Linked DNA regions of Homo sapiens. The protein of the gene in region 1 interacts with the protein of each later gene in a pairwise test. Each region holds a gene or a part of one and is shown in the gene's direction. Other genes may lie near its edges. The genes, in order: ADARB1, ZMAT4 and PNPT1.

Evidence for each region.
Region 2: the proteins of ADARB1 (region 1) and ZMAT4 interact in binary tests that used the Homo sapiens proteins (3 or more experiments, as listed by UniProt).
Region 3: the proteins of ADARB1 (region 1) and PNPT1 interact in binary tests that used the Homo sapiens proteins (3 or more experiments, as listed by UniProt).

The regions. Positions count from the first base shown.
Region 1 is NC_000021.9:45,216,251-45,226,320, forward strand, and holds part of ADARB1 (double-stranded RNA-specific editase 1), read left to right. Parts: intron 1-4,585; coding exon 4,586-4,764; intron 4,765-5,767; coding exon 5,768-5,947; 3' UTR 5,948-9,296; coding exon of another isoform or gene 9,297-9,305; 3' UTR 9,306-10,070. UniProt on the Homo sapiens protein: Catalyzes the hydrolytic deamination of adenosine to inosine in double-stranded RNA (dsRNA) referred to as A-to-I RNA editing.
Region 2 is NC_000008.11:40,893,468-40,903,407, reverse strand, and holds the start of ZMAT4 (zinc finger matrin-type protein 4), read left to right. Parts: upstream 1-5,581; 5' UTR 5,582-5,725; intron 5,726-9,940.
Region 3 is NC_000002.12:55,632,226-55,642,295, reverse strand, and holds the end of PNPT1 (polyribonucleotide nucleotidyltransferase 1, mitochondrial precursor), read left to right. Parts: intron 1-1,590; coding exon 1,591-1,669; intron 1,670-4,696; coding exon 4,697-4,744; intron 4,745-5,903; coding exon 5,904-6,059; 3' UTR 6,060-8,235; downstream 8,236-10,070. UniProt on the Homo sapiens protein: RNA-binding protein implicated in numerous RNA metabolic processes. Catalyzes the phosphorolysis of single-stranded polyribonucleotides processively in the 3'-to-5' direction. Mitochondrial intermembrane factor with RNA-processing exoribonulease activity.

The DNA.
Region 1 (10,070 bases):
CTAAGTGCCAACTTTTAGGTTCAGTGATTTTTGTCTTTTGTTTTATATTTCAATAATTTTTACTCTGATTTTAATTATTTCTTTTTTTTCCGCTTACCTGGTGTTTCAATTGCCCATCTTTTTGTAGTTTTTTAAGGTGCTAGTTGAGGTCATTGTTTTAAGACCCTTTTTACTGCTTTTGTAGCATTTAAAAATTATGATATGTTTTCATTTTCACTTATATTAAAATACTTTGTCCCTTGGGTTATTTAGAAGTCTGCTATTTAGTTTCAAAATACTAGGGATTTTACAGAGATCTTTCTGTTGTTGGTTTTTTAGTTTCATTTAATGACTTCAGTCCTTTTAAATTTATTAGACTTGGTTTTATGGACCAGAATATGATCTATCTTTATAAGTGTTCCACAAAACTTGAAAGAATGTGAATCTGCCACTTTGGGGTAGAGTGATCTGTAAATGTTGATTAGGCCAAGTTGTTTGATTATACTATTTATTTTCTTTTATATTCTTACCGATCTTCTACTTGGTCTATCAGTTATTGAGAGGCAGGATTGAAAATCTCTTAGTTATAATTGTACATTATCTATTTCTTCCCCTTTTTTAGAGTTTTTACTTCCTGTATTTTGTAGCTCTGTGATTAGATGCATAAAAATGTAGGATTGTTGGTTTATCTTAATAAACCGACCTCCTTTACCATTATATGATGACCCTCTTTATTTCTGGTAATAGTGTTTGTTCTGAAATTTGTTTTGAGATTAATATAACCTCCTCAACTTTCTTTTGATTAGTGTTAGCACAGTGTATCTTCTATCCCTTTATATTAAAGTACTTTATCTTAAAAATATGTTTCTTATAGACATATATTTATATATATTTATATGTTTGGATCTTGCTTCTCTCTCCCACCATGGACAATCTCTGCCTTTTCACTGAGGTACTTAGACCATTTACATTTATTGTGATTATTGATATTATTAGGTTTAAATTTCATCTTGCTACTTATTTTCTACGTGTTTCATATGTTCTTTGTTCACTTTTTCCTCATTTTCTTACTGCTTTTGCCTTAATTGGGTGTGTTTGATGATTCCATTTTGACTCCTTCTTGACTTTTGAGCTGTAACTTTTGTTAATTTGGTGGTGGTTTTTAGGGTTTATAGTATGCATTCTTACCACGATCTCCCTTCAAGTGATATTATACTACTTCACATATAGTAAAAGAACCTTACAACAGGATACTTTCGTTTTTCCATTCCCAACCTTTGTGGTATTGTTTTCAGACACTTTTGCATGTGTTAAAAAAATCCACATCTTATTATTTTCATCTTAATAATTATCTTTTAAAGGAATTTAAATAATAAGAAAAAAACCTCTTGTATATTTATCCATGTAGCTATCATTTCCAGGGCTCTTCATTCTTTGTATAGATCTGGATTTCCATTTTGGTATCATTTTTTCTTCTGGCTGGAGGACTTCCTTTTACATTCCTTGTAGCACAAGTCTTCTGATGATGAATTATTTCAGCTTTGGTATGTCTGGGAAAGTATTTTGCTTTCATTTTGAAGTATATTTTGCTGTACAAATATATTTCTGCTGGAATGGCAGGGTCCTTTTTCTCCTTTAAGCACTTTAAAGACATTGCTTCCCTGACTTGTTGTTTGCGTTGTTTCCAGTAAGAAATGTGTTGTTATCTTTATTCCTCTGTGTGTTTTTTGCTCTGGGTTTGCTTAAGATTTTCTCTTAATACTAGTGTTGAACAATTTGTTCTGTTGTGCTTTGGTATATAGTTTTATTCATGTTTCTTGTGCTTGGGATTCATTGAAATTCTTTAATCCATGGGTTTGTTGGTTTCATGAAATTTGGAAATTTTTTATTCATCTTTCTTCAGATATATTTTCCGTTCCCCCTTCTCTCTCCTCACCGTCATGAAATCTAATTACACATATTTCACCCTACCTAAACCTGCCCCATATCACTGATTTTCTGTTCTTTTTTTCTCTCTTTGTGTTTCATTTTTGGTAGTTTCTGTTACTGTGTCTTTAAGTTCACTAATCTTTTCTTCTGCGGTTTCTATTCTGTGGTTAGTCCCATCAAGTGTATTTTTTATCTAATACATTGTAGTTTTCCTCTCTAGAAATTTGGCTTAGGCCTTTTTATATCTTTATGTCTGTATCTTCTATATGTGAATGTCAGGCACTTTTCCATTCTCTCAGGAGGCTGTTTCCCAGCCTTGATTGAGTAACATGCCTACTCTGATCAGTGCTCCGCAGGATATTCAAGGACACCCTCTGCGTATCTCCAGGGCTCACTCTGTCTGCATGTCTCTTCCTTCCGGTACTCTGTCTTATGAAATCTGGCTGACTTGGTTTCCCTTGACTCTCAATTCAGGGGATCTGCTACACTCTGCCTGGGTTCCTTACTCTGAACAGTGAACTGTCATCTGGGTTTTGATATCTCTCCAAGGGAGGGATAAATGGTCATTGAAAGCAAGTGAGCATGGTGACGGGGTGGGGGTGGCCTCCACAGGGCACGAAGTGAGTTGTACTGAGTCATCTGAGAGTGCAGTGTGCTGCTTCTGGCCAGTGGGCTTGACAGTTCAGTGTCTGGGTTCAGAATATGAGTCTGCCCATGTTCTAAGCATGTTCTAAAGATTCATATCCCAAATTAGTTTTGATTTTGGTGGCCTATAACATCCATGTGATATGAATTATCAAGCTCAATATATAAATGCAGATACATGTATTCAATTCCGAGTTATGCAAGTGTCTTTTTAAAAACTTTCAACCCTGCAGAATTAGCCTGTGATTAGTTAAGATGAGATCGTTTAAACACAGCAAGAAAATAAGTACAAGGGTACTTCAAAAAGTTCATAAAGTTAAAAGATAAAAAAATGTTTAAAGATATAAACATTATTTCTCAACATAAGCTCCATCAAATTCAAGACATTTTTGTAAGTGCTGATCCTAGCCATTTAGATTGTCCCTAAAGAACTGAATGGTGGCTAGGTGTGGTGGCTCATGCCTGTAATCCCAACACTTTGGGAGGCCGAGGCGGGAAGATCATGAAGTCAGGAGATTGAGACCATCCTGGCCAACATGGTGAAACCCCATCTCTACTAAAAATACAAAAACCAGCTGGGCATGGTGGCACGCGCCTGTAGTCCCAGGTACTTGGGAGGCAGAGGCAGGAGAATCGCTTGAACCCAGGAGGTGGAGGTTGCAGCAAGCCAAGATCGCACCACACACTCCAGCCTGGCAACAAGAGTGAGACTCCGTCTCGAAAAAAAGAACTGAATGTCTTGGGAGTTTAACCATGTCAGTGCAGTCTTTCTTACATTAGTAACTGAAGAAAAATTCCTTAAGCATGCCCCTTAAGGAATTTTTGAGATTAGGAAACAAAAAGAAGTCAGAAGGAGCCAAATGAGGTGGATTTGCAACCACCATAAGGTGGATGGCTCATGATTTCCTCTCGAAACCCTCACACACTTGCCCTTGTTTGATGAGAGGAATAAATAGGCGCTTTGTCATGGTGAAGGTCTCTGGCGAAGCTTCCCCAGGGGGTTTCTGCTAAAGCTTTGGCTCACTTTCTTGAAACACTGTCATCATAAGCAGATATTACCATCCTTTGGCCCTCCATGTGAACCCAACAAGCAAAACGCCTTGAGCATCCCAAAAATGCTGCCATGGCCTGTGCTTTGGCCAGTCAGCCTGTGCTTTGACTGGGCCCCTTCTGCCTCTTGGTAGCCTTTTTTTTTTTTTTTTTTGGATTATGCATTTTCTTCAGGATTGTCTTTGTAAAAGCTATTTTTATCTCCTGTTTGATGTTTGTTCTTGCTTCAATTTTAGCAGAAGTCATGTAGCTCTGATAGGAGCGCTTTTCAAACAGATGTCTTAATCTTCTTAGTGCCTCAAACTAGATCCTATTCAGACATGTTTCAGCAAGTTAGTACAAGTTTATTTTGGTGCCAAAAAATTTTGAAATCCATGAGGTTTTTTCATAATAAGCATTTTCCATGAACTTTTTCAAGACTCTTGTTAAGAATTAGGGTTTCCTATTGCATCATGGATGTCACACATGCAAAGCCACGTGACCTGAACATGCCTGGCCTCTCAGTGGCAGGGGAGCACATGCAGGCATGAGCGCCAGAGGTGGTGTGATACAGGAGCAACCCCCACCTGCACGACCTCATGGGACCCTGCATTAGTCTCAGAAGTGGCTCCCACCCATCCACTCTCAGGCTGCCAAGGTTCCTGGCTCCGTCAGTGCCAGAGTGAGAAAAGACACACTTGTCAGGAAGTCTCATGATTTCAGGTTTCTGTCAATCTTCTGCCCACCTGCCCTGTCAGACAAGTGCATACCCGTGGGTCAGTTCTGCTTTCTCAGCACTGCTCCTATTCTGGTGGCCGTGGAAGAGTGTGAGGCCACTGCCACGGCAGATGCACGCTCAAGTCTGCGTATATTCCTCGGCAGGCAGAATTCCCCCACCACGCACTTCTGTGGCCATGTCTGAGCACAGTGTGCCGCCCGTGGCTGCTCCCTCCCTGGGGGTGAAAGCGGGCTTCACACCACCTTCCTGTGTCTTCCGTTTCAGGCATCAGCAATGCAGAAGCACGGCAGCCAGGGAAGGCCCCCAACTTCAGTGTCAACTGGACGGTAGGCGACTCCGCTATTGAGGTCATCAACGCCACGACTGGGAAGGATGAGCTGGGCCGCGCGTCCCGCCTGTGTAAGCACGCGTTGTACTGTCGCTGGATGCGTGTGCACGGCAAGGTACTGAGGCGCCCTCACCGCAATGCGCCGGCTCCACCTCCCCAATAGCTTGTCTGTCCTCACACCTACTGTTCCTTAAGTTGTTTCATCATGTCATCATGCACAGCTTCCGAAAACGATCACTTGGAATGATTCTTCCTTCAGATTGTTTTAGCTTAGAAGTGTGGCTACGTCCCTGAAACCTTAATGCCATCTCAAAGGCAGCTCTTTTCCTCCCTGCTGCAGGGTAACACCCACTGCCAGGCCACTGTGTGTGGTGGAAACGTCTCTTACTCTCAGATATTGAAAGTCATTATGCAAAACGCAGGGCCAGTCACCCTGCTGTCCCCTCCTTCTCAGCAACATAAAAATTGCTTGGATTGTGATAACCCTCCAGTGGAGTTTTTAAACCTTTTGAATTAGCTGTGGGGCCCTTTTTTCCCCAGAATAAAACTTTATATAGTAAGTCAGGGTATTACTAGTTTGTGTGTATTCTTCAGTCAAGTAGATGGCATCTGTTTATTCTGAGACCAGCATTGTGCACTGGCATGGGAGGTATAGCCAGAAGGGACAGTGCCCGGGAGGGTCCTGTTCACCAGGGGCAGCACCCAGGCCAGCTGCCACAAGTCCAAGGTCCACACAGAAGGAGTTACTGGCCGCATGAGGGAAGGCCTCCGAGGTCATCAGGGTGATGACACACATAACATCCGTGGTGCTTCTTAGAGTTAAAAATGAAACGTGAATCCACTATTGGTGGTTTCCCAGAAGCATGTCTTCAGAACTCGGGGGTCTGTAGCTGCCTGTTTGACCAGCAAGACTGGAACTTGGCAATAACTCAGCCCTTAGGAGACGCCGCACCTTGTTCTGTGTGAAGCCGTTCCCTTGGCAGAAGGCGCCTTCCTCTGGGTTGCTTTCCCCCCAGAAGCCAATGCAGTTCTGAAGGCCATGTTTTGGTATCTTATTAGGTGTTGTTTTCATCTGTTACAGCGTCAACAGTTGCATTTGTTTTTTTATCCCTTCACAGGTTCCCTCCCACTTACTACGCTCCAAGATTACCAAGCCCAACGTGTACCATGAGTCCAAGCTGGCGGCAAAGGAGTACCAGGCCGCCAAGGCGCGTCTGTTCACAGCCTTCATCAAGGCGGGGCTGGGGGCCTGGGTGGAGAAGCCCACCGAGCAGGACCAGTTCTCACTCACGCCCTGACCCGGGCAGACATGATGGGGGGTGCAGGGGGCTGTGGGCATCCAGCGTCATCCTCCAGAACCTCACATCTGAACTGGGGGCAGGTGCATACCTTGGGGAGGGAGTAGGGGGACACGGGGGACCACCAGGTGTCCACGGTTGTCCCCAGCATCTCACATCAGACCTGGGGCAGGTGCGCAGTGTGGGGAGGGGATGGGGTGCGTCAGGGCCCAGCATCGCCGCCTGGCATCTCTCTGCCGCAGCATTTCCCCTTCTGAACCGTCCAGTGACTGCTTTCAATCTCGGTTTACGTTTAGAAATTGAGTTCTACTGAGTAGGGCTTCCTTAAGTTTAGGAAAATAGAAATTACTTTGTGTGAAATTCTTGAATAAATAATTTATTCAGAGCTAGGAATGTGGTTTATAAAATAGGAAGTAATTGTGTCAGGTCACTTTTATGCCACATTATTTTAATTGCAAAAAAGCATCTATATATGGAGGAGGGTGGGAAAATAGAGGTAGGAAATAGTAGCCTAAAGGAAATCGCCACACGTCTGTCTAAACTTAGGTCTCTTTTCTCCGTAGGTACCTCCCTGGGTAGTTCCACACACTAGGTTGTAACAGTCTCTCCCTGAGGAGCAGACTCCCAGCATGGTGTAGCGTGGCCCTGTCATGCACATGGGGTCCCGCAGCAGTGACTGTGTGTCCTGCAGAGGCGTGACCCAGGCCCCTGTAGCCCTCAGCCTCCTCTAGAAGCTTCTGTACTCCTTGTAGGATCAGATCATGGAAAACTTTTCTCAGTTTACTTCTAAGTAATCACAGATAATACATGGCCAGTAATCCCAGGCTGGCCATTCATTCAGGTTTTTTAAAGGATATTTAACTTTTATGGACTAGAAGGAATCACGAGGGCTACTGCACAATACATGGCCTAAGTTCCCTCTGTTCCTTCCTCTGAATCGAATGGATGTGGGTGACCGCCCGAAGGCCTTCACAGGATGGAAGTAGAATGATTTCAGTAGATACTCATTCTTGGAAAATGCCATAGTTTTAAATTATTGTTTCCAGCTTTATCAAAGACATGTTTGAAAAATAAAAAGCATCCAAGTGAGAGCTGGTGAGACCACGTGCTGCTGGCGTAGTGTAGGCCAGACATTGACAGTCCTGACGGGAGCTCAGGGCTGCCCAGCGCCCAGCGTGCACGGGACGGCCCCACGACAGAGGGAGTCAGCCCGGGAGGTCAGGAGCGCGGCGGGCGAGGGCCCTGTGTGGACCACCTCCACCAAGCTCAGAGATTTGCACCAGGTGCCTTGTTGCCTCCGCTCAGGATGAAAGAGGAGCTGAGAGAAGTGCTCTGCCTGCCAGTGCAGTGCCCAGCTCCAAGGCTCTAGAGGGTGTTCAGGTGGGTCTCCTGGGGCCATGGGGAGAGATTGGTGCAGACCTTACCCCACAGCATACACCTGCCACAGCGAAATCCAGGGTGTTGGCACCTGTGTGTCCGTGATGAGCCTAGGAAACCAGAGCAGGGGCAGAGGGGCGTCATCCTCCCACCGGACGCTGGGAGCTCAGACCCCAAAACTGAAACACCGTGGCTTCGGCGGGGGGTGTGCCTCCTGATGTCAGGAGCCCCATCCACGTGTGTCCACACAGATCTCGTCGCAGCACGGCAGGAAGGGGTGCTGCTTAGGGCTCATTGTTGGGGACATGACCGGGTTCAGCGGCTAGAACATCTGCCCCACAGCAGCCTCCTCCTCCACCGAAGAGGGTAGTTGTCTCCCTGAAGCAGTCACAGCAGGCGTCTCTGCCGCTCCGTCACCACAGTGGGGTTTTGTTCAGGCAGATCGCGCTGGGGTTCTGCACCTGCAGAAGGAGAGGGGTCTGTTGTCGCTGGCTTTCCCCCAAGCAGGCTCTTGCACACTCTAGAAAAAACACCTTGTAAGTCTGTGCATTTTTATTGTCTTGATAAATTGTATTTTTTTCTAATGGGGATTGGGAGATGGACTTCGTTTTTAAAAATATGTGGATTTTGGTTACCAAGTTTAGTGTTAATATATTCCATATACATACAAAACTACCCGGTATGTCTGGCTTTTCCCTTCTGTCAGGTAATAGCTAAAGTCAGCATGATTGCTCCCTGTACCACCCCAAATAAGTGAGTGCCTCACCTTGTGGGGCCTGAGCAGCTACCTTGAGACCATGTGAGGTGGCACCTTTCCGGGGTGGACTCGTGCGGCCTTGAGGACAGGCACAGGGCACCCTATCCCAAGCCGTCCAGGCAGGAGGAAGGCAGCCAAGGCAACTGGGTTCTGGGAGCCCTGGGTGGGGCAGCTGTGGGGAGGAACTGGGTTCGGGGAGCCCTGGGCGGGGCGGCTGTTGGGGGGAACTGGGTTCGGGGTGCCCTGGGCAGGGGGCTACTGGGGGGCGGCTGTGAGGAGGAGTTGGGTTCAGGGAGCCCTGGGCGGGGTGGCTGTCAGGGGGAACTGGGTTCCGGGAGCCCTGGGCCGGGGCAGGGGGCGGCTGTAGGAAGGAACTGGTTTCGGGGAGCCCTGGGCGGGGCGGCTGTGGGGAGGAAGGTGACGTGCAGGGGACCAGAGGCTCTGCACTGCTCCTAGGACAGCTCATCTGTAATCAGAAAAAAAATAAACAAAATACAGAACGCTGACTCCTCCGTGAGACAGATCGGGGACCTTAGCACTTTAATCCCTCCCTTCTGAGCGCTCGGTGTGCACTTTTAGACTATAGCTGTTTCATTGACGTGTCACTCTCCATCCAGTGTCCTTGATGTGGCTTTTAGAGACTTAGCAGAAAATTCGACACAAGCAGGAACTTGATTTTTTAAGAAAAAATATTACATTTTGAGGACATTTTGACAAGTAGGGGAAGAGAGGGCTTCTGTTGTTTTGTTTTGTTTTGTTTTGTTAACTAAACCTGAAGTATTAATTCCACAAAGACACTGTCCCTCAGGACCACTCAGGTACAGCTCTGCCAGGGACAGAGTCCTGCTAGTGGGAGGTCTCAGGTGGGGCGGTGTGTTCTGTGCCATGAGGCAGCGACAGGTCCAGATGGATGTCGTCACCACCTTCCTCAGCTCTCATCACCTGGTCGTACGCCAGGCCCACCTCTTCCCAGCAAGGGACGCCAAAGAACTGCAGTTTTTATTCTGAGTCTTAATTTAACTTTTCATCATCTTTTCCTATTTTGGAGAATTTTTTGTAATTAAAAGCAATTATTTTAAAATGTGCAAGCCAGTATCTCACAAGGCATGGATTTCTGTGGAATTTATTTTTATTCAAATAACCATATTTATCTCCAGGCTGTGGAATCGCCACTTTCTTTGTGAAGACAGTGTCTCTCCTTGTAATCTCACACAGGTACACTGAGGAGGGGACGGCTCCGTCTTCACATTGTGCACAGATCTGAGGATGGGATTAGCGAAGCTGTGGAGACTGCACATCCGGACCTGCCCATGTCTCAAAACAAACACATGTACAGTGGCTCTTTTTCCTTCTCAAACACTTTACCCCAGAAGCAGGTGGTCTGCCCCAGGCATAAAGAAGGAAAATTGGCCATCTTTCCCACCTCTAAATTCTGTAAAATTATAGACTTGCTCAAAAGATTCCTTTTTATCATCCCCACGCTGTGTAAGTGGAAAGGGCATTGTGTTCCGTGTGTGTCCAGTTTACAGCGTCTCTGCCCCCTAGCGTGTTTTGTGACAATCTCCCTGGGTGAGGAGTGGGTGCACCCAGCCCCGAGGCCAGTGGTTGCTCGGGGCCTTCCGTGTGAGTTCTAGTGTTCACTTGATGCCGGGGAATAGAATTAGAGAAAACTCTGACCTGCCGGGTTCCAGGGACTGGTGGAGGTGGATGGCAGGTCCGACTCGACCATGACTTAGTTGTAAGGGTGTGTCGGCTTTTTCAGTCTCATGTGAAAATCCTCCTGTCTCTGGCAGCACTGTCTGCACTTTCTTGTTTACTGTTTGAAGGGACGAGTACCAAGCCACAAGAACACTTCTTTTGGCCACAGCATAAGCTGATGGTATGTAAGGAACCGATGGGCCATTAAACATGAACTGAACGGTTAAAAGCACAGTCTATGGAACGCTAATGGAGTCAGCCCCTAAAGCTGTTTGCTTTTTCAGGCTTTGG
Region 2 (9,940 bases), on another chromosome or scaffold:
AGCAGGCAGCAGCGAAGAATGTGCGCAGCGTGTCCACATAGGTGTGTGCCTGCACGCACATTTGCATAAGGAAGGGGCTGGAAGGGTCTGCGCCATGGAAACAAGAAATTTTTATTTATTTATTTTTTTGGTTGGAGTCTTGCTCTGTCACCCAGGCTGTAGTGCAATGGAGTGATCTCGTCTCACTGCAACCTCCGGCTTCTGGGTTCAAGGGATTCTCCTGCCTCAGCCTCCTGAGTAGCTGGGACTACAGGTGTGTGCCATCACGCCAGGCTAATTTTTATATTTTTTGTAGAGACGGGACTTCACCATGTTGGCCAGGCTGGTCCCTCGGCCTCCCAAAGTGCTGGGATTACAGGTGTGAGCCACTGCACCGAGCCCAAATCATTTCTTTAACTCATATATCAAAGTTGATACATTTTGGAGTAGAATAGAAAGTCCACATGATTTGAATAATAAAGCATGCACATTTGAAGAAATTCTGGCTTGTGGCAGATCACTTGGATGACACCTTCACATTCGCAGGTCCTCTCTTACAGAGCAGCATAAATCAGTGGAACAGTTTGAGAATTTCCTTAGGCAACAATTTCCCGCAGCTGTGCCCCTATGTCCAGAGCAGCTTTCCTGCCCCTCTGAGCATCTTCAGGTCCCACCCCAAGAGCGGATGTAACATCTGGTCTAGGACAGCCAAGTGGCTATGCATCACAAGAATATTGACCCATGCCAAGACATTCCTGCTATTGTCACTAGGCTTAACATCAAGGGCAGGACATCTGCGTCTTCTTTTGTAGGTTTATTTGCCATCATTCTCTCAACAGCCTTAGAAACAATGATCACTCTGCTTTATAAATGAGGAAATGGTGTGTGGCAGGTGTTGTAAACACATGTTCAATGGGTTCTTTCAAGAAAGCAGCTATGTTAGAACGTGGGTCCTGTCTGGCAGGGGTCCAACAGCTGTCTCCATGTGTGCAGACCTTTATTCTAGAAGGGTGCTTCACACTACACATGGCCTGCCAGCCTCACAGAAGGCAAGCTGACCTTCTTAATTCAGCTCCCCTACCCCTGTCAATTGTTGCATCGCTGGATAATATTTCATGACATCTTTCAGCTGCATATTTCTTATGAAGAATTTAACTGAAGTAAAACAGAATTTAGGTGGGCAATCTAGCTTTGCAAGTCTCTCTCTACCTCTCCATCTGTCCCTGTCTCTGTCTTCCTCTTTCTCTTTTTCAGATTATTTACAACTCTGGCTCACTAATAAATGTGATTGTGATTTAAAGAAACAAAATCACCTGCTTTATTCATCAGGGTATGTTAAATAATAAAATATCCTTACTGTTTTCAAACCTCATGAAGCCTGTATATTCTAATACCAACTTTCTAAAGACTCATTAATAATTAATGAAATCATTAAGAATGGTTCATGTTGACTGACACCCTCCTGGCAGCCACAGTCTCCTCTTACGCTTTGTCAAAATGTCACTGGCTCCACAGGTTTGATTTTCATGGTGGGAGTGGGGGTGTGGGTGGAGGGGGAGGGAGTTTGATTTCACAACAGCTATCAGCTAGAACAGAAAGCTATGAAAATGTTCTTCCAAGTTTCTCTACTTAGGAGACTGTGCTGGGAGAAGTTTTCTGAACAACCTTTCATTCTTCCAATGCTAGGTTCAAGAAATCCTGCTAATATTATGTTTTCATTGAAATGGTATTGTAGGGCTGAAGTCAATAAGCAAAGATGTAGTGTTGAAAGTCACCCCCTTTGTTTTCCTCTTGTTTTCACACATTTTCCTCTTTCTTGGCATTGCCTAGATTTATTCTCCTCTTCTCCCTTTTAGAAACAGAATTTGGCATAAATAAATGATAACTGAGAAAATGGCATACACGGACAAGTAAATGCAAGATTTCTCCAGCCTCCCACGGTAGGTCATGGTCATTTGTTGTAGCAAGTGGTTACCCACAAGAATGATGGAGGTTCCGGCGGCTGCTGTCTAATTTGTGTTTTAATAAAGAAACCCACATTCTTTCCCTAATTACTCAAAATGGAACAGGAACCCCCAAAAGTCTTTCCCACCATTAATGTCCTGAAACTGTTAAATCAAAATGGACTGCTTTGCCGAGTATGGCCCACAACATGGAATTTGGTACATTTCATACCCCAGTGAATTTAAATTGTATGGAGCTGATATTTAATACAAATGCAAGTACCAGTGGAATCTGCATATTTAATATTCATTCTCTAACTCTCAGAATTAAGCAGTTGATCTATGGGACACAAAGGGAGAATCCTTCTCTCAAAGAGGATATTTTATGACCAGGCAGTTTAAAAGACACTGACATAAACAACTGTTTGAGGCTTGCTCTCTTTCTTTCTCTCTCTCTCATCTTCAAAAGGCAAAAAGTACATGTAAGGACATGCTGTTTTAGACAAAGCATTTTAGAAAATCACTTGAAATGTTTTCCCTTTCCTTCAGGGACAACTAAACCTTTGATAGATACTCAAGAGAGTTCTTATAATTTAGTTTATTTCTCTTATTTTCTTAAGGGGGGTGGAAAAAGAGATAGTATGAAGGCACAAAGCTGAAGCCTACTTTCACTCGAAAGTAAAAATCATACTGCTTAAATAATAAAAGTGTTATTTATGGTTTTTACACCATGACTGAACACACCAGATTTTCTAGGACAGTGTCAATTTCAAATGTATAGCTAAGTTTAGTTTCATTATTGTGCCTTTGTGTGATTTCACCTAGACAAAGGAATGAAATAGAAAACAAATATTTTGCTACATCCCTTGCCCTAGTTTTGAATTCCTAATATACGGTCACTGTCTCCTACTCATGCTGATATTTGGAAAGCCATTATGGAAAGGACTTCATTTTTTGAGGTCATGCCTCACAAGTAAAATGTGCATCCCACATCCTTTCATTTCCTTCAAATGCTTGAGGGAGGAGGAAGGTACTGGGTGAAGACCTGCCTCATTTTCCAGAGAGAACACAGAGAGCTTCGAGTGACTCTGGAGCTGCCGCATTTCACAGGCATTTCACAGTGGTTAGTCCTGAATTTTTAGCTCTTGGACTCCAGAGTGGGCCCCCTCCACACTCTGCTCTGCTGGAAGAGTAGTTGCAGTGGAATGAGGGTCGCATGAGGCTTAGGGCTGTGCACCCTGGATGCTTTGAATTGGGTTTTAGTAGTCAGCCCACTTATTGAGTGCTAGGTGCTATCTGTGGAGTGATAAAAATATGCATGATACCATCTCTGTCTTTACAGGGCTTGAAATGTATTTAGGGAAGCCAGGCATGTATGCATGAAATAGAAAGTCACCATACAAGGCAGTGGGGCACCTGCCATTTGCTGCAGAGGACGCAGCTGAAGATAAGGACTACAGCCATTCAAGGCCCCAGGGGAGGCCAGGGCAGGACTGGGACCAGAGCCTCACCAAAGACATGGAGATCCTAGGATAAGAAGGCTGAAGGGTTAGTTTCTGGATCATCTGAAATTTGATATTTTAAAAGCTTTCTTTAAAAGACGCTTTTATAATTCTCTCTTAAAAAATTCAGCCCATTTTGTCCTTTGCCATTTTTGAATTGGGTTATAGGTCTTGTACTTATTGATTTATAAAAGCTCTTTCATTTTAGAAACATTAATAATAAATATTTTACCTAGTTAAGAAAATTTAGCTGCCAAGTGATGTCTTTTCCATATGGTGACAAATACATTAAGGAGAGGGGAAGGTCAAAATTTGTGCTTTATGATTTCTTCTTAATTTTTAAAAATTTTTAATTTTATGGGAACATAGTGGGTGTATATATTTATGGGGTACACGAGATATTTTGATACAGGCATGCAATGTGTAATAATCACATTAGGGTAAATGGGGTATCTGGCACCTCAAGCATTTAGCATTTCCTTTTGTTACAAACAATCCAATTGTACTCTTTCAGTTATTTTAAAATGTACAATATGTTTTGCTGACTGTAATAACCCTGTTGTGCTGTCAAATACCAGATCCTATTCATTCTATCTAACTCTATTTTTGTACCTAGTAACCATTCCACCCCCGCCCCTTCCTAGCCTCTGGTAACCATCATTCTATTCTCTCTGTCCATGAGTTCAATTGTTTTAATTTTTAGCTCTCACAAATGAATGAAAACATGTGAAGTTTGTCTTTCCATGCCTGTTTTATTTCATTTAACAGAATGTCCTCCAGTTCCATCCATGGTGTTGTAAATGACAGGATCTCATTCCTTTTTATGGCTGAATAGTACTCCACTACGCATATGTACCACATTTTCTTCATCTAATTTATCTGTTGATGGACACTTACATTGCTTCCAGATCTTGTCTATTGTGAACAGAGCTGCAATAAACATGGCAGTGCAGGAATCTCTTCAAGATACTGATTTCTTTTTTGGGGGTATATACCTAGCAGTGGGATTGCTGGATCAGATGGTAGCTCTATATTTAGTTTTCTGACAAACCCCAATACTGTTCTCCATAGTGGCTGCATTAATTCACATTCTCACCAGCAATGTAGGAGGGTTCATTCTCTTTTCTTCACATCCTTGCCAGCATTTGTTATTGCCTGTCTTTTGGATAAAAGCCATTTTAACTAGGGTGAGACTTTATGATTTCTTGGTGAACAAGGAAAAGTGTTTAAGCTGTCCCCACCCTTTGATGGGTATGTTCTCTCTTCACGTGCGTAGGTTGTTGATGAAAGTCTAAGCGATTAATTTAAGCCATGTCAGAATAAACCAAAGTGAGGGTCCCAGCAGAATCATTCACTCTAGAATGCTCGGCTTTCTGGACCTCCCAGTGAGAACAGTGAGAAACTCCAGAGTTTTATGGATTTTAAGAATAGCTCTTCTGAGACTCTTTGGACAGGGTGCAAAGGAAAATTGTCTCCTCAGGTTGGGGGATGAGGGGGACTGTGAGATAAAGTACTGATAGATAAACTCCAGGTATGCACCTACTATGCTCCCCAAGCAATCTGCCATGTCCTTCACATGTCCTCCAGGGTGGCCCTGTGAAAAGCATTACTCCATCCCTTCAGCCCTCAACCTTGCTCGGCTTTCTAGAGTCTGTCTCATGCCGGCAGACACCCCATAGTTATTATTCTCTCTGCCCTCAGCAACATTTACCAGTTAGGGGGAAAATAAAGCCAGAAAATTGTTGCTATGGGCTCTGTTTTGTGGAAGTTAAAATGCTAGAGCAAGAATCTGATTGCTTGATAGCTCCATCTCTCTCTCTCTCTCCCTCCTACCCTCCTACCCCCCCACAGTTTCTCCTTCTTTTCCTCTCCCCTCCACCTCCTTCCCCCACCCCGCTCCCCCACATTTTCCTACTCCTCTCCCCTCTCTCCACTGGCCTCCCGGTCCTGCCCCCACATTGGGCTGGAGGAGAGCCTTACAGGTTGTCAATGAAACATGGAATTATTTCCTTTGATGGCTTAGATAATAGTAGGAGCCAAAGCAATGAGTGAGGTCGGCTGAAACCAATGCAGTCCTGCCCGGGACTGGAGAGCCAATCGCAAGAGCAGAGGGCGGGGCGTCGGAGCCAGCAGATAATTGCTAAGTGCATCGCTAGCACAGTTGGTCCGAGCTGCCGAAAGGTCTGGTCGCAGAGACAGGAACGTGTAATCCTCAGCGTGCTCCAGCCCACAGCTTCGCTCTACTGCTCGGCAGGGCAGCTGGCCTCTGGGCACCGGCGGCCCCTCTGCCTCGCGGAAAAGGTACCTCTGCCTGCGTCCCGGGGGTGCAGCGCCTGCGTCTCCATTGCCAGTGGCTTTGCAGTTTAGCCTAGGTGGAGGGATTGCAGAAAGAAAAGTTTCTGGGAGGGAATGTGATAAAGGTGGGAAATCACTGTCTTTTGTTGGGAGGAAAACAAGCGGACAATTTGGGAAACTTCTGCGCTGGCAAGAAATGGGCTTGTTTACTACTCCTAATTAGCTGCGCTCAGGTCTGTCTAAATAGGTCTGGTCTCAGGCTAGGGTGTCTGCAGGGCTGGGGTGGAGATTCGGGTGTGCTGGGTGAAAGAAGTTGGATCCCAGGGTGTGCTGTTTCCTGGTGCACCCATCATGGATAGGCTGGTTCCGAGAGAAACGTGATTGGTTGTTTGTGTTTTCCGCTATAGGGTCTGTCCCCTTCGTATTACCTTGATCTGCCTTCCCCAAACTATTGTGACCTTCAACTGGAGTCCTTCCTCAAACTTCTGCCTCCTTCCTGCCTGTCTCAGTTCATTTTATTTGGTGGAAGGAGACATTCCCCGGGGTGGGTGGGTGAGGATGGTCTATTCTGTTTGACCTGGTGGGCACCTACGTGACAACTTGGTGACACGCCAGCAAAACAGTTCTCAGAGGAGAGGAAATCACATAATTAATTAGCTCCCGAAAACTCTGGAAGACTTTCCAGGCTTGGGGTATCCTGAAAAAAAAAAAAAAAGAAAAAGCCAAAAAACGGGATAGAGAGTTCGGTTTGGTACCATGTGAAGCTTACACCCTTGTCCCCAGAAGGGGTGCCTGGCCCGGAGCATCCCCGCAGCTCTGGGAGGTGGAGGCTGGTGGAGGGGGTGGCTCCGTGTAGGTGCGCAGGTTGTTTTGGTGCACAGGTGCATTTGTGGCAGAGGTGGTGCTGAAGTCACCATCCACACTGCTTCTGCTAACTGCTCTTGAAGTAAAACAGCTCACCCCGGCAGGCAGCTGGTTCAGCCCAGAAGCACCCTTGAGCATTCTAAATCGCGAGACCTCAGGGGCCTCTCTTGCTCTGAGACCCTTGGGAAACTCCTTTCTCCCCCTGCCTCCTCCGCCTTTGGCTTCTGCTAAAGGGAGATATTAGGTAGGTGAGTCACTAGGAAGCAGGGACCCATGGGGAAGCAGGCGATGTGCTTGGTCTCGAACTTTCTTCCTCTTCTGCGAAGGCAGCTTCTGCTTGTGTGCCCACCGCACTTCACCAGTTGCGCTGCCTACCTGCGGGATACTCTGAAGCTGATAGTCTGGGGGTGATCTTCCAAGTCCTAGGGGCATTGAAGAGTTTAGATGATTTTCATCCCTCTGATTTCCGTTAAACCCGCAGCTGGGGAGTTCGATTCCCAGTCCTGACAAGACTGCATGTTCTGGGAGGGATTCTCCAGTGACACCTCTTCCTCAGGGCACCCTTCCACGGAGATGCAGATGACAGTCTTGATTCTCCAGCTCCACAAATCCCTTCCACTTTTTAATTCTTATTTTCTTTAACCACCACAACAGATTCTCCTCCACCTCCTGTAGGCAGCTATTTTGGGTGGGAACTGTGATTATTGAAACTCTATTCACAATGGTTAAAAAAATGCCTGCCCACTTTTTTTTTGGGGGGGGTGTCAAAATACCATCAGCGTTCTCTTCTGTACTTCCTATCTGACAGTAAACAAAACAATTTTGCAGCCCTGCCAATTATAATCTTTTTGTGTTTGGGGGGCCTGGAGCGGAAGCTGAACTTTTCCCAGCCGGTGGGCATGGTTAGTCATGGACGTCGTCCTCTGTGGCCTCTCCAGGGCACGTGACCCCCAGGGAGCCCAGGAGGGGCAGCCCCCAGCACGTGGGGGATCTTGCATGAGAGCACCTTGGTTTTCATGAAGGCAGTAAGGAAACCAGAAAATGCTTTTGAGTTTGAGGATTGCAAAACTGGGGGTTCCCTTTAATTGATGCCAATCTGTTGGATTTCTATCGTGATAGGAAACATTAAAAGTAAGGCATTTGAAACAGCTCCTGAAGGGTGAGTCATGCACAGAGGGAAGAGGCAGTGTGGGGGGAGGGGGCGGAGGGGGCCTTGGAAAGTACAAGTGGGACACGCTGGAGCGCTCGCTTTCCTTCCCTCTGCCTCCTCCTCAATCCTCTTTCTTGTATTTCCCCATTCGGAACAGAGATCATTAAAATAACAACTTTAGACCAAAAAAGGATCCTAGGAGCTGAAAAATAATTGACAAAGTGCAAAACACCCTCATTACAGCTTCACCTTGGATGGGGTGAGGTGTGAAACCCAGGACCCAGCGCCTCTGCTGCGATCCAGTTTGGAGAATCTAATTGCTGGTGTTAGGCTAATTAACTCCTTGTGAAGCTGCGTGCCTGTTTGTGTATGCAAGGACCGATGAATGCCTAGGAAATTAAATGTGTTACTTGTCATTTCATCAAACATGATGGCTTTGGCCAGGACCCTGGATAAGCACTATCCACAGACCCAGCGTTTTCTCCTCTTCCCAATTGGCCAAACTGGATCTCTCTCTCTTTTAACCACTATGGTGGGAAGGGGTTGTGTCTTTCTGCTTTTCCAAGCCCTGCGTGAGTTACCTGGCAAATAAAAGTCCTCTCCTTACCCCTCTGTCCCTCCATCCCTGTCATCCTTCTGTTATCCCTTTTCATCATAAACATATCAGTAAGTAATCTTTTGCCAACCTACTTTGATCTTGTCATTTTGTGCTGATTTTTCTGTTAAAGAAAATTGTCCCCTGAAATAAGACTGAAAACATATTAAAATTTTTATCAGAGAAGAGCCTTTTTGCCTTCTGCTTTAAAATTTAATTTTGTGCTTTTGGGGAAATCTAATAAGCACGCCTATTGTGTTCGCTGTTTTGGTAAACGCTTTTACAATGTCTTGTTTTTTTTTTCTGTGGATGTGTGAATTCCCTTCCTGTCCTAGGGGAAGGTGTGTCTGGAGATTTGAAACACTCTGGAACACCTCAGAAAGTTGAAGAGGTTGGAGCACGCTATTTCCATGTATTCAAGGTGGGGTGAAGGCTGTTTTGAAACCTAGACCCTGAAATGTATTCACCACACTCTGCTATTTTCCCTCTTCATCTTTCATTTAGGAAAATTTCATAGCCCAAATTATGACTAAATCATTCATCCTACTCACTCTCCTTCCCATGCTCGTGCCCCTTCCTCCCTTCCTCCATTCACCCTACATGTAGGGTTACCTCTCTTTCCTGGTTACTTTTTGTTTCTTCCTTCCTGTCATTTCAGGGGGCCCCAGGGTGGAGATCTAATTGTAGATGTTTTGTGCACCTCACTCCTGAAACAGTTAACCAGGGGACATCAGGAATTGTGGAATGTGATAGGAGCCTACCCTAGGGGAGCAATGAGGTAATCCTGTCCCCAAGTTCAGTTCTATGCAGACCTCACCAGAGCACCTGGAGTGGTGCAGCTGACCTGCATGAGGCAGACAGGGCAGATGCTTCGAAGCACAGTCCTGTCTGACACCTGGAGAGTCCCACCAGCCGCAAGCCCTCACTGTGCCACTGTCCTGAGGCCTGCGCCTGCTGCAGCCCCATGCGCAGAGCTGACCTTGGAAACATTAGCATGCAGGGAAATTTGCCTGCTGTGCTCTCAGTTTCTTTGCTCTTTGTTCTCACCCCTAAATCTGTTAATAGTTGGAAAGGATCAAATCTACTCATTCATACTAAGGTGTGAACAGTTAATAGTGTTGCTACTTACAGAGGTATTTACATTCTTAAAGGAAATCAAAGATGTGTGTATGTTCTCACTTATAAGTGGGAGCTAAGCATTGAGTACACATGGACATGAAGAGGGGAACAATAGGGGCCTACCTGAGGGTGGAGGGTGGGACGAGGGTAAGAATCAAAAACCTGCCTATCAGGTACTATGCTTACTACCTGGGTGATGAAATAATCTATCTGTACACCAAACCCCTGCCACGTGTAATTTATCCATTATAACAAACCTGCACATGTACCCCCGGACGTAAAATTAAAAAGTTGGAAAGAAAACAAAAGATGTGCACAGTCAAATTCCAGGCACCTGCTAGTGGGATTGGGCAGAGGCAGACTGAGTTTGGATGGGGAGCAGAGTGGGAAACGGCGGCCTTCGCTTTTTAGCTCTGGCTGGTCCTGCTCTGACCCATGCTGAAAACATGCTGCAGTGTCCCAGGGCTTTGTGATCTTACTATCTGGGCTCTGG
Region 3 (10,070 bases), on another chromosome or scaffold:
AGTAATTGGTGAAACCCCAAATTAATTTTCCCAGTAAATATTAAATAGGCCCAAAATAGACTTAGCAATATTTCTTTATTTCTTTTTTTTTCTTTTGATGGCTTATTTTAAACATATCTGAATGCTTAATTGGCACATATTTTTAAATCCAATTTCGGCTGTGCATGGTGGCTCACGCCTGTAATCCCAGCTCTTTGGGAGGCCAAGGCAGGTGGATCAGGAAGTGGGGGGTTCGAGAGCAGCCTGACCAACATGGTGAAACCCCATGTCTACTAAAAATACAAAAGTTAGCCAGGCATGGTGGTGCATGCCTGTAATCCCAGCTACTCAGGAGGCTGAGGCAGGAGAATCGCTTGAAGCCGGGAGGCAGAGGTTGCAGTGAGATGAGATCGCACCACTGCACTCCAGCCTGGGCGACAGAGCGAGACTCCATCTCAAAAAAAAAAAAAGCCAATTTCAGTCTCAAAGCATTTTTTTTGACCAGCTAGAAGAGCTTGTTTTTTTAGGATAAGAAAATCCCTCTTTTAAGAAAAAGGAAATTATCAAATGTAGCAAAAATGTTCAAAGCTATTTGAAATAAAATAAAAGGCAAGGAGATAATTTGTTTAATATTGCAGGTGAAAAATAAGAAATGGGATGGCTTATTTTCATAGATTAGAGAAAAAAGGGAAGATTAGTTTTTTAATGAAATAAGTATTCCATTTTACCTGACCACCTTCCTTAAATCCTTACCTTACAGGTTAATCATATGAGATTCTATACTATTTTTAAAATATTTAATGTCATTTCGAAAATTTTTGGAAAATCGAGACCAGCCTGGCCAACTTCGTGAAACCCCATCTCTACTAAAAATACAAAAATTAGCTGGTCATGGTGGCACATGCCTGTAATCCCAGCTGCTTGGGAGACTGAGGCATGAGAATGACTTGAACCTGGGAGGCGGAGGTTGCAGTGAGCCCAGATGGCACCACTGCACTCCAGCCTGGGTGGCAAAAAAAAAAAAAAAAAAAAATGTTTTTGGAAATTGTTAAGAGAAATACAGAAGAACATATATTCTAAAAGTTTTTTTTGTTGAGACGGAGTCTCACTCTGTTGCCAGGTTGGAGTGTAGTGGCACGATCTCGGCTCACTGCCACCTCCGCCTTTCGGGTTCAAACAATTCTCCTGCCTCACCCTCCTGAGTAGCTGGGATTACAGGTGCGCGCCACCAGGCCCAGCTAATTTTTATATTTTTAGTAGAGACGGGGTTTCACCATGTTGGCCAGGGTGGAGTTGATCTCTTGACCTCGTGATCTGCTCACCTTGGCCTCCCAAAGTGCTGGGATTACAGGTGTGAGCCACCGCACCTGGCTCTAAAAGCTTTTCTATTGCATGTTTTTTCTTTATCTTTTCTTCATTCTTTGATTCACACATATTTATTTATAGGGTATATTTTCAGTTGAAAAGTATACTTTTTATAGTTCTAAAAACGTGCTAGAATTGTTTCTTTTCGTTTTTTACTTTTTCCTCATATGAAAACAATGTTTTATTTGTCAATGGATATACAGATACTTATTATTTTAACCAGGCTTACTATTTATTTTTTTGTAGAGATACTGGTGTAATGGTAAAATTATATCCAAATATGACTGCGGTACTGCTTCATAACACACAACTTGATCAACGAAAGGTAAAAAGACAGATGTTATTGTTATTATTTTTATAACTGCCTTGAAACACTGTATTGAAATTACCTAGGTTGGTAAGAATTATACACTTTGCCTACTACTAGCCTAAACAGAGAAAACAAGTGGCAGAGATGCTGCTGGCAAAAAGTTTTACATTGTTTAGCATAAAGAAAAATTGGCTGGGCAGGGTGGCTCATGCCTGTAATCCCAGCACTCTGGAAGTCCGAGGCGGGTGAATCACAAGGTCAAGAAATGGAGACCATCCTGACCAACATGGTGAAACCCAGTGTGTACTAAAAATACAAAAATTAGCTGGGCGTGGTGGCGTGCGCATGTAGTCTTAGCTACTCGGGAGGCTGAGGAAGGAGAATCGCTTGAACCCGGGAGGCGGAGGATGCGGTGAGCCAAGATTGTGCCACTGCACTCCAGTCTGGCGACAGAGTGAGACTTTGTCTCAAAAAAAAAAGAGTGTCTGTTTTACCATATATTAAAATATATTATAAAGCCATAGACAATAAAATAGTATATTACCGGCCCAGAAATAGATAATCCATGCAACAAGAAAACAAAAACTAGAAATAATATACATGGGATTATAATATACGCTAGAAGTTGTATTATAGTCAGTGAATAAAGATTATTTAATAAATTATATTGGTACAGCTGGTTATCTTAAAACAGGATCTCTACTCATTTTTATACCTAAATCCTGTCTGGATCAAAGAGCTAAATGTGCTTTTTAAAAAAGGTGGTAGGAAAAGATAATCTTGTTGGGGCAGGAGGGTTTACTAGAAGAAAATTGGATGTTTTAATAAGATTAGTAGTGGAGAACTCCTCAACATGATATCAAAGCCAAAAAAGTAAATAAACTTACAAAATTTGACCCCATAATTTTTTAATTATATGGCAAAAATTTCAATAAGGTTAAGAGATAATCAGCAACCTAAAGTAAAAATGCTTATATGCAGAAGCTTAATTTACAAAGGGCTTTTATAAATCCGTAAGAATGATGAATATCAATAGAAAAATAAGTAAAGAACATGAACAAATTATTTTTATAAAAAGCCAACCAAGATATTTAATATCAACAGCAATTTTTGAAATGCAAATGAAATTAAGATATCAGTTTTAACTTTCAGATAGTTTAAAATTCTCAGTGTGTATAAGAGAAAAGATGGACATTTTCATACACTGTTGATGGGGGTGTGAATTGGGACAAACTTTTTAGAGGGTGTTTGGTAAATGTCTATGGACCTAGACATTGTAGGATTTTATTTGGAGAGGATAATTAGAGTAGATGAATTCATGATTTGTGCTACACTGCAACTTATTTTTTTTCACCTTATTATTTTGAAAAGTTTTTAATGTACAAAGAAGTTGAAAGAATGATACACTAAACCCTCATATATCTTTCTCCTATATTCATCAGTCATTAACATTTGCAACACTGGAATTTAAAGCAATTTATTGTCTTTAGGTGATTGTTTAAATAAACTATATAGTTTGAAACTTAACGGTAATTCTTAATTTATTGATATGAAAAGATGTCCTTGGGCCAGGTGCAGTGGCTCACGCCTGTAAGCCCAGCACTTTGGGAGGCCAAGGTGGACGGATCACTTTAGGTCAGGAGTTTGAGACCAGCATGGCCAACATGGCAAACCCCCGTGTCTACTAAACATAGAAAAAATTAGCTGGGCATGATGGCGTGCACCTGTAATCCCAGCTACTCTGGAGGCTGAGGCAGGAGAATCTCTTGAACCTGGGAGGAAGAGGTTGCAGTGAGCGGATATCATGCTACTGTACTCCAGCCCGGATGACAGAGCGAGACTCCATCTCAAAAAAAAAAAAAGATGTCCTTAAGATATACAGTAAGCACAGAGGGTCCATTTTTATAAATGCCGTACACATACACTAAGTAGACATCTGAAGGGATACTCATTGGAATGTTAGCAGTAGTTATCTACAACTTGAGAGGGTTTTGAGACAGGGTCTTGCTCTGTCACCCAGGCTGGAGTATAGTGGCATGATCACAGCTCACTGCAGCCTCAGCCTCCCAGGCTCAAGTGATTCTCCCACCTTAGCCTCTGGAGAAGCTGGGTCCCCAGGCACAAACCGCTACACCCGGCTAATTTTTTTGGATTTTTTGTAGAGATGGGGTTTCTTCACGTTGCCCAGTCTGGTTTAAGCAGTCCTTCCACCTCGGCCTCCCAAAGTTCTGGGACTACAGGTGTGAGCCACTGTACCCAGCCTGTTTTGGATAATTTTTATGTTCTTAATACATCTGTATTTTAAATCTTTATAATTAACTGATTTTTTTTTTTTTTTCTGAGACAGAGTCTGACTCTGTCGCCCAGGCTGGAATGCAGTGGCATAATCTCAGCTTACTGCAACCTCTGCCTCCCAGATTCAGGCAATTCTCCTGCCTCAGCCTCCCAAGTAGCTGGGACTACAGGCGTGTGCCACGACACCCAGCTAGTTTTTGTATTTTTAGTAGAGATAGGGTTTCACCATGTTGGTCAGACTGGTTTCGAACTCCGGAGCTCAAGTGATCTGCCTGCCCCAGCCTCCCAAAGTTCTGGGATTACAGCCGTGAGCCACCATGCCCAGCTGATTTTTTTTTTTTTTTTTTGAGACGGATTCTCTCTCTGTCACCCAGGCTGGAGTGCAATGGCGTGGTCTCGGCTCACTGCAAGCTCCACCTCCTGGGTTCACGCCATTCTCCTGCCTCAGCCTCCTGAGTAGCTGGGACTACAGGCGCCCGCCACCATGCCCGGCTAATTTTTTGCATTTTTAGCAGAGATGGGGTTTCACTCTCCTGACCTCCAGAGATGGTCTCAATCTCCTGACCTCTTGATCTGCCCGCTTCTGCCTCCCAAAGTGCTGGAATTACAGGCTTGAGCCACTGCGCCCAGCCGCTAACTGATTTTTTTAATCAGAAAAACTAATAAAGCTTGAGGAAAAAATGTGTACTTCCATGGACACTACATAATTATGCACAACAACTAATAGATTAACATTTTTTTTTCCAGATTAAACATCCTACTGCCCTAGGATTAGAAGTTGGCCAAGAAATTCAGGTATTTGTATTCCACCTTTTAGCCTTGAAGTTGTAAATTGTTCTTGAAGCTTCCATTGTTTTTTTCAAAAAGTTGAAAGAAGAGTCACCATCTATGAAGTTTTTTATTTGTATGCAGTACTTCATTTTTAATCTTAGAATTGCTTGAACAGACTCATTAAGGATTTAAGACACAATTCTTTCCCTCAAGGAGCTTGCAGCTTGGCCAAAATGGTAGTCACCCTTAGTTCGTTTAAAAAATACATGAGCATGTTAGTGTTAGCTATGCAGACTCCATGATTTGGGCACTGACGTAAGAACTGTGATAAGGTAACTTGTTAAAGTCTTTGAATGTCATCTTTGAGGAGGTGAGACTTTGTTTCTCCACTACTTAAAGTTTTTGAGCTTGGTAAGAGCCATGTTATTCAGGCCTAGAATTCATATAACAAAATTGGCCCTTTCTTTGTAGTCCTTTATGAGTGGATGAAAGAAGTCATTGCCAGTCTGTTTTTTCGGGCTCCACCACATTGTCTTTCACTTACGCTAATACGCATGACCTGAGTAACTAAGGCTTCTGGTTTATTCCCAATGTGTAGTCTTATTGTCCAAGTAGCCTCCAGGGGAAGATGAGTGCTAAGATATAGTATCTCTGTATAAGGTTGATTTTTTGGTTTATTTGTTGTTGTTGTTGTTGTTGTTGTTTTCACATCAGAAGGAACTTTAAACCTTTGCATTTGCCCCTGACTTTCATTTTCCAAGGTGAAGCCAAATAAACACTAATGTGTTGGTCCTTTGAGCAGTAGTGAAAATCCAAGTGACCTAAGCATAATCCTCTATAGTATATAACACAATTAGGCTCTCAAAGCCCTTGTCTAGGATCATTCACTATGCCTGTGACTGTTCCCCCAGTATAAGGACTTGGCCTGGTGAGAATAAAAAGGCACAGATGAGTTCAGCGGCAGATTATAGTTGAACAACTAACTGCCCCGTCTCTTTTCTCTTTTATAATGACTACTTATATGTGTTAAGTGTATACGTCCACTTAGCACTGAACAATGCTTTCAGTGAACAAGTAAAAACAATCATTGCCTTATTTGGACCATGTAAATTTAAATGTCTATTAGTTTAGATGTCACTCAATGTGCTGTAACTTTAAAGGAAGATCTGTTTCTTTAACACAGGTGAAATACTTTGGACGTGACCCAGCCGATGGAAGAATGAGGCTTTCTCGAAAAGTGCTTCAGTCGCCAGCTACAACCGTGGTCAGAACTTTGAATGACAGAAGTAGTATTGTAATGGGAGAACCTATTTCACAGTCATCATCTAATTCTCAGTGATTTTTTTTTTTAAAGAGAATTCTAGAATTCTATTTTGTCTAGGGTGATGTGCTGTAGAGCAACATTTTAGTAGTATCTTCCATTGTGTAGATTTCTATATAATATAAATACATTTTAATTATTTGTACTAAAATGCTCATTTACATGTGCCATTTTTTTAATTCGAGTAACCCATATTTGTTTAATTGTATTTACATTATAAATCAAGAAATATTTATTATTAAAAGTAAGTCATTTATACATCTTAGAAAAAATTACATAGTTTTGTTTTTACAATTCTGAAATATATGAAAAACTTAGATAGAATATGTCATATGTTATTATAACAGATCTCTTCCTACATCTTATTTTTCTTCTTTGTATACAGTAGTGACAGTTTACCTTCAGTCATCCTACAGGTCACCTCTGTGCCCAACAACTTTACTTGCCTACAACGGTTCACAAACTGGAACAGGCCATATTCAAAGCCAGTGCCTATTTCTTCAGAACTGTTAACAGATATAGTGAGTTGAGGGAGCTAATCTGATACACTTTTGATAATATAATGCCTTTCAAATTAGTTACCAAATCATAAACAGAGTGGAATAAATATAAATGAGATTCTAACTAGGATGAATGTGGTAGTAATGATGTATATTTTTCAAATTTACCTAAACAGAAAGATTATTGGCTAAGGCAGGCGGATCATGAGATCAGGAGATCGAGACCATCCTGGCTAACACGGTGAAACCCCGTCTCTACTAAAAGTGCAAAAATTAGCCGGGCGTGGTGGCGCATGCCTGTAATCCTAGCTACTCAGGAGGCTGAGGCAGAAGAATCACTTCAACCCAGGAGGTGGAGGTTGTAGTGAGCCGAGATTGCGCCATTGCACTCCAGCTCAGGCAACAAGAGCAAAACTCCGTCTCAAAAAAAAAAAAAAAATTGTTTACTTATCAAATTGAACTAGGTCAATTTGAATATGTGTATTGCTCTAATGTATGGAAGTTCTTAGTATAAGAGCTGAAGGATCATGACTTTCGGTTAATAGATGTTTGAAATAGATGTTTAGAGGTTACTGATACACATGTCAAGTTGTTCATTCCCATCATTTAAAATATCACCTTATAATTCCACAGAAAAGTAAATGGTATGTGGACGTCATAATTTAGAATGTGTAATCTTTTTTAAAATCTTATAAAAATACACTGGACTCAGTGGTACGTGCCTGTAGTCCCAGCTACTTGGAAGGCTGAAGTGGGAAGGTCACTAGAGCCCAGAAGTTCGACACTGTAGTGTGCAACAATCATACCTGTGAATAGCTACTGTACTCCAGCCTGGGCAACATAGCAGGACTCTTATCTCTAAAAAAAATTTTAAATCTTATAAAAATGTAGGTATATCTGGCCAGGCATGGTGGCTCACACCTGTAATCCCAACACTTTGGGAGGTCAAGGCGGGTAGATCACCTGAGGTCAGGAGTTCGAGACCAGCCTGGCCAACATGGTGAAACCCCATCTCTACTAAAAATACAAAAATTAGCTGGGTGTGGTGGCGGGCGCCTGTAATCCCAGCTACTCAGGAGGCTGAGGCAGGAGAATCTCTTGAACCTGGGAGGCAGAGGTGGCAGTGAGCTGAGATCGCACCACTGCACTCCAGCCTGGGCAAAAAGAGTAAAACTCCATCTCAAAAAAAAAAATGGTGGGCACAGAAGCTCATGCCTGTAATTCCAGCACTTTGGGAGGCCGAGGCGGGTGGATTACATGAGGTCAGGAATTCAAGACCAGCCTGGCCAACACGGTAAAACCCCATCTCTACTAAAAATACAAAAATTAGCTGGGCATGGTGGCAGGCACCTGTAATCCTAGCTACTCGGGAGGCTGAGGCAGGAGAATCACTTGAGCCTGGGAAATGGAGGTTGCAGTGAGCCGAGATTGCGCCATTGCACTCCAGCCTGGGCGACAGAGCAAGACTCCGTCTCCAGAAAAAAAAAAAAAAAAGGTAAATTCATGACTCAGGGTTAACTAGTTCATAAAATATTACAAATTTATCTGGCTAAACCAAAGATTTTTAAGTCAATAAACATTGATTATATATCTATTGTGTGTAAAATAGCATGTTAGGCAATGTTGATATACTTCTGAAATATTAAAGATTAATTGAAAATGAAAGATTAAATTTATTTGCTTTCTACACTTGATATCGACTATTATTTAATAACAGTAACAAAAGTTTTTATTCTCACTTCTGCTTTCTAAGACATAATTCTTATTTTAAGATATCATCCTTAATGGTAGAATTTCAAAATTGCAATTTGTGTTTTTCTTAAATTTTCTGTTTTCTTTTTCAAAGGAACTCCCAACTCCTAATAATATGGAAAATGAAGCCAGTTCTTAAACAAACTCCAGAAACCTGAACTGACACAAAGTACAAATACAGCTTACTAACTGCAAACCACCAAAAGAACACCATTTCTGCTTAAACCAAGAGCCTACACTTTATGTCTGAACTTTTCTTATTTTTGTCTTCATTTAAATGTTGGTAGTTTTCCCTACTTTCCAATGAAGTTTTTCTTTTTCTTTCTTTCTTTCTTTCTTTTCTTTTTTTTTTTTTTTTTTTTGAGACAGAATCTCACTCTGTTGCCAGGCTGGAGTGCGGCGGCGCAATGTTGGCTCACTGCAACCTCCACTTCCCAGGTTCAAGCAACTCTCCTTCCTCAGCCTCCCTAGTAGCTGGGATTACAGGTGCCCTACACCCGGCTAATTTTTGTATTTTTATTTTATTTTTTCTTATTTTTTTGAGATGGCATCTTGCTCTGTCGCCCAGGCTGGGGTGCAGTGGTGCATTCTCAGCTCACTGCAAGCTCCGCCTCCCGGGTTCACACCATTCTCCTGACTCAGCCTCCCCAGTAGCTGGGACTACAGGCACCTGCCAATATGCCCGGCTAATTTTTTTTTTGTATTTTTTAGTAGAGACGGGGATTCACCATGTTAGCCAGGATGGTCTCATCTCCTGACCTTGTGATCTGCCCACCTCGGCCTCCCAAAGTGCTGGGATTACAAGCATGAGCCGCTGCGCCTGGCCCCAATGAAGTTTTTCTATGACGGCTATATTATATGCTGGAAACACTAATTTATAGTGACTCAGATCAAACTGAATGCCATCTTTGGTGGTTAGCTCAATACAAGTACTTAAAAGTAAGACTTTTTTTCCCATGACTTTTGTTTTGATACAGGAACACACATACTCCATAAGTTACTGTTCTATCACAGTACAGTTTTTATATAATCATTTTTTCTTCTATTACAGAATATCTTACATTCTTGGATCTAAAATGAAAACATGAATATCTTTCTTAGTTCAGTTCAGCCAAGCATAGCATTCTTTTATTCATCATTTAACATGTGCCAGGCATTATAAGGTATGCAGGGGATGTGTCAGTAAATAAAAGACCTAAGTTAGGCCGGGCACGGTGGCTCACACTTGTAATCCCAGCACTTAGGGAGGCTGAGGCGGGTGGATCACCTGAGGCCAGGAGTTTGAGAACAGCCTGGCCAACATGGAGAAACCCCGTCTCTACTAGAAATACAAAAATTAGCCAAGCGTGGTGGCACATGCCTGTAGTTCTAGCTACTCGGGAGGCTGAGGCAGGAGAATCACTTGAACCCGGGAGGCAGAGGTTACAGTGAGCCGAGATCGTGCCACTGTACTCCAGCCTGGGCAACAGAGCAAGACTCCATCTCAAAATAACAAAAACAGACAAAACAGCTAAAGTTCCAATGCTCATATTCTAGAGTTTGGAAATTGATAGCAAATTACGATACAGCAGGTCCTTGAATAACTTTTTTTTCAACATCATTTGCATTAAAATGTTGTTGAGAAGGAAACAAAACATTGATTCCTGGCCAGGCTTACCGTCTGTGTGGAGTCTGCACTTTTTCCCACGTCTGCAGGAGTATATTAGTCCATTCTTGCATTGCTATAAAGAAATACCTGAGGTTGGATGCGGTGGCTCATGCTTGTAATCCCAACACT